3 separate regions of the Homo sapiens genome follow, and regions 2 and 3 are each reported to be linked to region 1. The links are microRNA targets in miRTarBase. Many come from high-throughput screens and were not tested one by one. Region 1 holds a microRNA gene; each other region holds the end of a gene's coding sequence.
What was found. Region 1 holds the annotated microRNA hsa-miR-4667-3p (UCCCUCCUUCUGUCCCCACAG, at 975-995, opposite strand). A microRNA usually pairs through its seed, bases 2 to 8, with sites in the 3' UTR of a target mRNA and lowers its output. Matches are read on the target gene's strand: a 7mer-m8 pairs with bases 2 to 8, a 7mer-A1 pairs with bases 2 to 7 and ends in A, and an 8mer does both.

Region 2: the mRNA of LSAMP is a reported target of hsa-miR-4667-3p. Seed matches in the 3' UTR shown: 7mer-A1 at 778-784, 7mer-A1 at 774-780, 7mer-A1 at 770-776, 7mer-A1 at 766-772, 7mer-A1 at 762-768, 7mer-A1 at 758-764 and 4 more.
Region 3: miRTarBase lists TMEM170B as a target of hsa-miR-4667-3p. Seed matches in the 3' UTR shown: 7mer-A1 at 3,054-3,060.

The regions. Positions count from the first base shown.
Region 1 is chr9:35,605,877-35,609,133 of GRCh38, reverse strand. It overlaps MIR4667 (microRNA 4667), which reads right to left and starts at 1,040; the gene lies at 975-1,040. It overlaps TESK1 (testis associated actin remodelling kinase 1), which reads right to left. Exons shown (of 10, transcript NM_006285.3): 2 at 3,029-3,150; 3 at 2,849-2,897; 4 at 2,151-2,297; 5 at 1,725-1,807; 6 at 1,462-1,552; 7 at 1,123-1,206; 8 at 885-974; 9 at 625-739; 10 at 1-272. RefSeq lists silencers at 3,007-3,257, 3,048-3,257.
Region 2 is chr3:115,807,366-115,810,622 of GRCh38, forward strand. LSAMP (limbic system associated membrane protein) reads right to left here. Exons shown (of 7, transcript NM_002338.5): 7 at 1-3,049. The coding sequence ends at 2,952. The region is part of intron 1 of LOC124906269 (a long non-coding RNA gene); the gene reads left to right. Among named protein-coding and RNA genes, the nearest start is that of SNORD155, 96 kb to the right of the region's middle.
Region 3 is chr6:11,575,281-11,578,537 of GRCh38, forward strand. It overlaps TMEM170B (transmembrane protein 170B), which reads left to right. Exons shown (of 3, transcript NM_001100829.3): 3 at 151-3,257. The coding sequence ends at 281. Among named protein-coding and RNA genes, the nearest start is that of TMEM170B, 39 kb to the left of the region's middle.

The DNA of each region.
Region 1 (3,257 bases):
GGTCTCCGGAGTGGTCACCAAGGGCAGCTGAGTGGATGGGAATGGTGATGGTGGCACAAGAGGCAGGACTGGCTTGCTGGGTGTGTCTAAGAGCTTGATCTTGCCACCCCTGAGGTCTTCCCGTAGTGAGAAGGGGTTGACTCGAGTCAGATTGTCCCCCCAGTTGGGGGGTGATTCTGGTGATGGGGGCAGGAAGAGGTCTGACCGGCTTCGGGAAAGCCGGGGATCTGGCCTGGGAAGCGTGGCAGAGGGACCCCCTCTTGCAACAGAGCCTGTAGATAGAGAAGTCTGGAATCACTGTCCTCAGCATTTGATCACAGCTCCTTGAGGGCCTCACTATTCTCCAGGAGGCTGGTGGGACTAGAGCTTGAAAAAGGGAGTCCCACCTGGTGCTTTGGAAAGGGGTGATGTCATCTCCAGGCCCCTTTTACTTCTTTCCCCTCCTCTCCCTCAAGCTTTAGCATTAGGAAACTGTCTTCTTGGAGATGTCCTCCCACCCTACCCCAGCCCGACCCCCAGCCTTTTCAACTAATAAATATACTTAGCCTCCCCCATGTCACCTCTGAATTCTAGGGAGGACAAAGGCCAAAGGACTCAAGCTGGATCAAGGTCAGGCTCCCTTACCCTGATTGTGTGTCAGGGCGGTCCTGGTGAGTGGGGCTGGCTCAGGCAGCTGCTCCAGGATCCATTCCAGGTGCTGGGTAATTTCGGTGAAGGGGGCACGGGTGCTGGGTTCCAGCTGATGGGTAGAGACAGGAACGGCTTCACTCAGTGCTCCGAAAGAGGGTCTCTGAGTTTCCTCCCATCACCTGGGTCCCACAGGGCAGCCATGGCAGCTTACGGATGGGGGCAGGGTGGGGCAGGAAGGAGTGTGAGGCTCTTACGTTGCAGCAGTGGATGGCCAGGAGCAAGAAAGGCAGTGGGCAGTCATCCCCCACCAGAGTTCGGAAAGCAGGCACATCCAGGCCAAAGTCCTGTGGGGACAGAAGGAGGGACCTCCAAGTCAGCTTTTCTTGGGTTCTCCTTCTGCTCCCCAGTCAGAACCTCAACCTCTAGGGAATCCTCCTTGGTTATGAGCCAGCTAGTCTGGAATTCTTTCTTTGCAAACCTAGAAACATTCACCTCAGTGCGTGGTAGGTAGTCAGGGTCTGCAGGTACTCGGGCGATGAGCTCACAGAGGACAATCCCGAAGGCAAAGACATCAGCCTGGGGGTCAGAGATAATAGTGTCGGGGAAGAATTAACAGTTTTCATTTCAGAATTTTGACAGAATATAGCAGAATTTGGTTGAGGGTGGGGGATCTTGACAGTTTTCATGTGTTAGAAGGGTGCCTGTGAGGGGCAAAGGGATCTTGGGGACTCCTGAAGATCTGGTAGGGTTGTTTTGGGGATGGATGGGGCTTTATGAGAATACCTCAAGGGTCTCGGAAGGCCTTGGGGATCTGAAGGGTTGATGTCTCACCTTCTCATCATACAGCTCACCCCGTAACACCTCTGGAGCCATCCAGTATGGGGAGCCCACCACGGCCAATGGCTCCTTCCTTGCCCCCTCCCTGCAGGGGCAGGGGCAGAGTGGTCAGAAGCATCCTATTCAGGCATCCCCCCCAGGCAAAAGGGGATGAGGTGAACTCCCTCCGTTCCCCAAGGGAAACATCCCTGGGGCTCTGGGGACATCAGATAGGGGCACTCTGGGAGATTTGGGGGGAACAGGGACATTCATCTCACCTATACACAGGAATCTTTTCGGCCAGCCCGAAGTCACCCACGACAGCGGTGAAGCCTCGATCTTCCCGTCGGACTAGACAGTTCTGACACACACACACATAGTATCCCCACGCACTCATCACCTTCTGCTGTCTGGCCTCCCAATGTATAACCCAAAGCCCTGTCACTCCAGCATAACTCCAACCCTCTCTGCTCTCCCAGTTTTTCAAGGCACTTCAATATTGCAACATCATCCAACACTCCAAACACAGGGTGCTACTCAGTCCCTCCGAGCACTCCCCTCACCCTGGTCCCCCAATATTCTCCAATGCCTTGCCACTCCAACATCCTAATATATCTGTTATCCATATTCCAACATCCACAGGCCAGTTACAACCTAATAGCCTCAAACCCTCTTTCATGTCTCCACCCACCCTGCTAGCCTACCTTGGATGTGAGGTCGCGGTGAAATACACCTTTGGAGTGCAGGTACCGCAGGCCTCGGGCAATGTCCAGGGCCAGGTGGAGCCTGACCGGCCAGGACAGGGGTTCAGGGGAGCTGAGCAGCTGTTCCAATGTCCCCCCATTCATATACTGGTGCATAGGAGGAGAATGGGAATAGATGTCAGACTTCAGTCTGTATTCTAGGTCCCCCACTTACACGCTAGGGGACACTCCCGAGGATCACAGAGGTCATAGGGGTAAGACTGTGCTGTAGGACCCCCCCCATCCATGTTCTAGGATTGCCCCGTTCAACTCAATAGCCATTAGCCATGTGCAACAATTTAAATAATTTAAAAAATTTTTTAATCAAGTTGACCCACAAAAAATAATCTAAACAATGAAAATAATTTAAATTTAACCACATGTGGCTAGTGGCTACTGTATTGGACAGCACAGATAGAGAACATTTCCGTCACTGAAGAAAATTCTATTGGACAGCACTGTTCTAGGGGATACAGAGAATAAGACCAGTTGAGGCCTTTTATATGTGGTTTGCCTAAAGGAAAGTTCAGGAAAGCCTCCCCTGAGAGGAGATCCTGTTGCCTCTCACTAGTCCTCCGTAGATCCACCAGGCCTGTTGACTCCCTTTATCCTTGGGGGTGAAGGGGGGTGGGGATCCCTCCTTCCTGGCCTATCCTCACCTCTGTAAGAGCGTGCAGCTGTCCCTGGTGCACACAGACTCCCATGAACCTGCAAGAGGATGGGGAAGATAGAAGGATAGGCTATTAAAGGCCTCAGCTCCTCCTCAGTTCCACTTTTCCCGCGGGATCTTTCCCTTTCTCTCCCGCCCAGCAAGCTGCCCAGAGACTGGGGCCGCTCACCTTAGGATGTTGGGGTGCCTGAGCCGGTTCATCAGCTGCACTTCCCGTAGTGTGTTGCCCCGGTTACTGGGGAGCTTGTTCATCTTCAGCACCATGACTTGCCCTGACTGTCGGTGCCGAACCTGGGGGCAGGAGCAGCCGGCGAGGGCCGGGCAGGTCGGGCGGGTCGCCGGAGTCTGGACCCTCTTCCCCGCACTCCCGGCCCCCTAGTTTCAGCCTCTGGTTGAAG
Region 2 (3,257 bases), not on the chromosome of region 1:
CTAGAGACACAGGCAAACACCACATTTAAATATATGTTTAATTATGTTTAATATATGGTCCATTATATTAAAACTGAGGGAACAAACGGTGCTGACATGGCAGACATTTATTTCAATGGAGAAGTTCCTCCCATGAAACCAAGACCTTGTCCTCATGATAAAGTGGAGACAATAAGAAAGCCAGGTATATAATTAAGGCCTGTGACATGCCATGGGGATCTGTTCCTGAAGGTAATACTAACATCCAACTTCTAACAACATCCAACTTAACTCCTACTTTTCTCTTCCTGTATATCTTTAAATTAGCATGCGCTTTTCTAAAGCCACACACTTAAGTGTGTGACTGCCTCTTCAATTTTTGGGGAATGCTTATTATTAAAGATGATACCCTTTATTCTTGAACTAAGAAGACCAAACTGTTAAGAGAAATACCTGATTGTCAATAAATTGATGCTGCATAGGAATATGGCTCACCTTCCCTATATTTTACTAGCTACCTTCTTGGATGAGAATTTGTTTTCTCTCCTATGTCAGAATCTGCTATAAACACTCTTAACCATCCCCAAGCTGAATTTTTCCTTGTATCAAGTCTAAACTGCAAAATCATGAAAGAAGGCTGTGATAAGCTTCTAAAACAAACAATAAAATCCCTTAGAAGAAATTGAAGAAATTAACAATGCTACTTAGATCTTTCTCCCTCCTGCCTTCCTTTCCTTTCTCCTTCCTTCCTTCCTTCCTTCCTTCCTCCCTCCCTCCCTCCCTCCCTCCCTCCCTCCCTCCCTCCCCCCCTTCCCCGTCCCCCCCTCCCTGCCTTCCTTCCTTCCTTCCTTCCTTCTTTCCTTTCTTTTTTTCCAGTTACAAAGTTTCTCATTTTATAACATGGAACAGCTATTTACAAGGTTCCAACTTAATGACATACCATATTTGGCTCTGCAAGATTACATTCAAATATAATCTCAAAATAATTCTCTGTCCTCTCATGAACTGAACCACTTTCAGTGCTTACTACTGTGTAAGTGAGAGCAAGGGTTGGTTTTCTGACAAAGACATCTATATGCAGAGAGCCAGCTCTCTCGGCAAGACATTTCCTAAGAAATCCTTCTGGTGATGTGGTAACACCAAGCTTTGTGGTACTCATAAAATTTCTGTCTAAATTTATTACAAGTTGCCCAGCAATTTTGGTTAAGGACCTAGATCACATTTCAGTGTTAATGTCAAGATGACTCTTATAGATGTAAATTTAAATAGAGCAGGGAAGATGAATATCATGCAATTCTTAGCACCCTGGCATAGGATAACAGTGGACCACCATGAACAGTGGTGCTGCAAACACCATCAGTGAAACAGAACAGGGATTATGCAGGCAACCAAATAAAACATTAACCTAGAACACTGGGAAAAACATCTGCAGAGGAGCACAAGGAGTGAACTGCTTTTCATTATGGCCAGTGCTCTGTATTAGAGCTCTGACAGTATCTCCAGAATACAGTAGGAGCCTGGGCATCTGTTGACTTTTTCTGCCTTGCTCACTTTCACTGTATTTTATCTGAAATAGGAAACAATCTCTGCTCAGGGGAATTCATGGGACAAATGTTATTTAAGATTAGGGAGGAGGTAAAACAGGGCTGCTTAGGATCTCCAAGTGGTTCATCATTCTTTCACTGGGAGTTGACACTTGGAGACCTTCCTGTTTCTGGGGATTTACTCAACACATGCTGCTCATTTTCACAGTGGAGCAGGGCCTACCCTGTTAAATGCCAGGAAATATAAGAATCCCTCAGACTCATGAAATGAGAGTAAAATCTGAAATTTTCTCTCCTAGGTCACCTCGTCCACGTCATAATTCCTTATGCTGTTTGCTTACCCCATCGATAGTAGGCACTTTCATTTACAGTGATATTCTGAGTGACTCCCCACTCGGTTCTGATGATGGGACTAGGAGGAATATGGGGTCCTGCCCTTGGAAGGAGCATAGCTTGGTTTGAATACACACTGATGCCATGTGACAGCCATGGATGTAGGGAGGACTCTGCTCCTTGCCTCTTTCCCCGCCATCTCCCCCAGCAACTTGTTACAGCCGCATCTCACAATTACAATGCAGGACAGTATCTACAGCACAATGAGTCTATGTACACATGGACCATTCCCTTGGCATGCTTTAGAGAGAGACACACACACGCTCACACACATGTACACCCACGTGAGAGCGAAAGACTTGAGCACACACGCACAGTGGAGAAAATGAAAATGGCACTTCCTAGCATTTGCGGCATGACTAGTGCTCTGGGGAGGGGGTGGAGGTGAGGAGAGGTGAGGGAGGAAAGGTGGGTGAAAAGGGAGTATCTAGGGTGGGTGTGGGGGAGATAGAACGCACTGGAGGGAGAGGGGATGATCTCTAAAGTTGGAGAGATAGTGGAGGAAGGAAAGCCAGAGAAAGGCTCAACATAAGATTCCATTGATAGTCTGAAGTGGCTACAAGTCAGCTCAAATGAAAAATAGAATTAAAAGGTTATGGAAATATAAACACCAAAGGCAAGACCTTATTTTCTTCCCCACAGATGAAAAAAGATGAAGGAAGGAAGGATAAAGTGTGTGTTGGGGGGCTTAATATCCATCTGGTTCTTCTCTTATTTTTACAGCATCCAGATGTCCTTAGTGTGGTGTAGTCTTTACACAGCATACATTTGCTTAGTAGATATAAACATATCCCAGTAGAACCTTCTCCATCCTGAATGATACATAAATTTTTAATGATGGACTGTAAAATTGTTTTAAATGTTGTATTTTCTTCTTCACTTTCTTATTTCCCCCTTCATGTATAAACACACAAAGTTGTGAAATAAACGGTCTCCCCCATCTCTCTCTCTCTCTCTCTCTCTGTCTCTCTCTCTCTGTATTCTGTGTGACGCATTTTTGTGTGTTTTTTAAATTATTTTTAAATTTTTATTCTATTAACATTTGCTGAGAAGGCAGAGCAGAGATGCTGCCAGCAGCCACAGTGGTACGGCCAGACTGATGGATCCATTTATTCCTCTCACCGACCCAGGTCCTGCAGAGCAAAAGAGGAGAGAGAAAAAGAGAATGAGTTACATGGGCCCACTGTATGTTATAGCTGACTGCTGATGGTATCAGAGGTAAGACCTGGCCAGGTACTAGCATCTCAAAGTTACTGCACTTATGTGCAGCCCAAGAAGCGCTCAAAACTTTTCTAAATCCTTCTCCTCCTTGGGCTACAAGTATCCTAAGGGGCATCATTG
Region 3 (3,257 bases), not on the chromosome of region 1:
CAGGGAAACTTTTTCATAGAAAGTGGATAAAATGAGAAAAAAATGATGACTTATGTTTTGATGAAATGAAAAGAGCTCTTAAGGTGCAGCATGCAGTGTGTTATAAAACGAGTGACTGTATCCCTTCATTTTTCTCCCGTTTCTCCTTAGGTGCAGCAGTAGCGGGCATTTACAGAGTAGCTGGGAAGAACATGGCCCCTTTGGAAGCGCTGGTATGGGGCGTTGGACAGACTGTACTGACATTAATCATCTCCTTTTCAAGGATCCTCGCTACACTTTGAGGTTTCTGTGGGAATGTCTTACTTCACATAAGGAAACAGATGTACAGATTCCCTGAAAACGGCATTGTTAACAAGTGGAAATGAAATTGTGCAAGAATGTGGACTGAGCAGGTCAAAGCATAAGGAAGACCTTGAGCTGTGTGGAAGGATTGCCCTCTGGTGTTCAAGTGATTGCACTACCGCACTGCACCTTATGTGCCTCTGTCTCAGGCAAGGTGCATTAAGACACTATGTAAAGTTACAAGAAAAAGCACCTTGTTTAGCTGCCTATCAGGTTAACATTGGTGTTGAAATCATCGTTCCTAACAGTGTTATGTTAAGTTACAGGGACGTTTTGAGGTATTGATATATGTGCCAAACTCTTTTCTTTTTGTTAACATTGATCATGTGACAATTTGCAAGTGTAGATGTAGCTGAGTGCTGTGAACATATTTGACATGAATTCAGGTAATGTACTAAGATTTTTGTTCGGTAACACTAAATCCCGTATGAGTGCTAAATACTGAATTGTTTAATATGAGAGAAATTATTTGGTTTTTAATGTTGCGCGTTTCTGGGATTTAGGGCTTCAATATGTTTAGGTATTATTGTTATTTAATTGATGTGGAAGATAAGTCTTCTTAACTGAAGACTAGCTCAACTGTTTTAAGAACTCAGAGTAGCTCTATAGGGTGCATACTTTTCACCAACTTAAGTAACACCCTTTTAATAGCTTCTCTCATGCATCCATATTCTGTTTATACAAATTCAGAAACTTGAAGGGTCATACACATTGATTGTAGTTTGTGCGTCATAAAAATGTAATTTGAAGATTTTCTTAAAAATTTTTGTAAGAAAAAAGTCTGAAATGCATGTTGCATTCTTTGACCCTTCTAAAGAAAGTTTTTGCCTTGTATCTCATGGACAAAACATCTTTATAACTAGTATCTCAGTGGGATTGTATTACGTGTTGCATATATCTTGATTTTTGACAAAACATAAACAGTCTTTCATTCTGGAGTATTAACTGTTTTTAGAGACTGGCCTAAATTAGGCTCTGGAAATAAAGACCTCATTTGTAGAAATAAGTAACAAGTAAGTTATATAGGAAGAGTAATGAACTATTTTACTTTGGACATGTGGCAACATCATAATTTTGCTAAGTAAAAATTGGGGAATATAGTAGATAATTTTAAAATTTGGCAATTAGTCTCAGCATATCAATGCAGTACTGAGCGTGTATTAGAGTAATTCAGTTGTTCAGTTCTTGATTTATGATATGAAGTTATGATTTAAGTTTAGTAGAAGAATCTGTGAGGGCATATAGCAAAAGTGGAAATGTCCTTTATATAAAACATTTTAAGAGGTTCTGGCAATACGTAATTGTAAGAGTATAGGAAGTAGGGTTGAACTGGTCTCCTAATGAGATTTTTTTTGGCACCAGATACAATTATAATGTGCTAACTCAAAGGAGACATTGCAGAGAATATGAAGTTAAGGATAATCCAAAAATAACCTGGTAGCCTTGCTGTTTAATCCAATTTGCTATAAAAGTAGGCCTTTGTTATATTACATTCAAATTTAAGAACTTTGTTACCCATACCACTTTTTCTCTATCCAGAAGCAGAGTATATCCACAACTTACCAATGAGAAGTTGGAGAGGCAGTACTTTTCTCAGTATGGAAGCCAATTTGGGAGATTTACTAACACTGGCTTGGAAATTTGTTTTAAAAAAATAATAAGCAACTATGCATGGATCTTTGAAGTAAATCTTAAAATTGATTATTTTTATTATGTACAGGCCTGAAATTGTTTTCATGTGTTCTTTATATTCCTGATGTTTTTACAAATTAAATTTAGGCATAACTTTTCCAAGTCAATCTGATTTTTTCTTTTCTGCCAGACTTGAATTGTGTTCTTCTTTTACTTTGGCTATTCTGTCAATAATTTAAAGCATTCGTATTCTTCCAGAGGAATTACCAATAGCATGTGGAAATTGTTTCAGATCTCCAGAATGAATACTTATTTTAACATATGTTTATTTTATGATTTAAGAAAGTTATGGTAAAGTAATATGGAGCATGATTCATAATCCAAAATTAACAAGAAAATAACTTGGATACATTAAATGTACTAATGTGTGGACCAAAGAGATTTAAACTATTGTTTTTACTCTAGAATGAAAGTATAATTGAACGGTTAATAATTAGTTTGTAGAGTGTCCTGCAGTTATTATCAAGTTGCTTTACATTATCAATTGTGTGTGTATGTGTATACTTTTAATTTTAGGGGTTATTTTTGGTTTCTTTGCTGTTTTCAGTTATTTCCATTGAGATTTTGTGCAACTGTCTCTCTTTTGATGTTTTGAGATGCAGTTGAATAGTTTGAGTTTGTGAATTGTCTTAATAGCTATTTATATGCTGAAATTTTTAAAAAGTTAGTAGCTTTCCTATAGACACAAGAAATGTTTAATGATATATATACACACACGTATATATCATTATATAGGTATATAGAGAGCTGCTATATATGAATACAGTCTACTTGGAAAGCTTTTTTTCAGTGAACACTTTCATGTTCTAGTGGAAAATTTGTTCAGTGTAATGATCTTTTAAATAGGTTTGAGGATGTTTGAAAATTTTGAATTTTGGGAAAATTTTCTTCACTTAATAGAGCTGGAGACCCTTGTTTGGGACATGACAAAAGTCCTTATTGATGTATTTGGGTTATATACTTTGTTAAAATTCGTATGTGATTTAGCAGTACATTTTCTTCGTGACAAATGCAAGAAGGGAGGGAGGATCCTCTATAGTGGACACTCCTTTATTTAAAAAATGTTTAATAAAATATTGTTTATAGTGAAATCAGCTCCCCAAAGAAGGAACTCCTACATGCCCAAACTAATTACAGTTGAACATACTGATTAAAAATGCCATAGATCACAGCTAGTCAGGAGGCCTCAAATAAACTGCAAATAATGCTTAAAACTTTAAAAG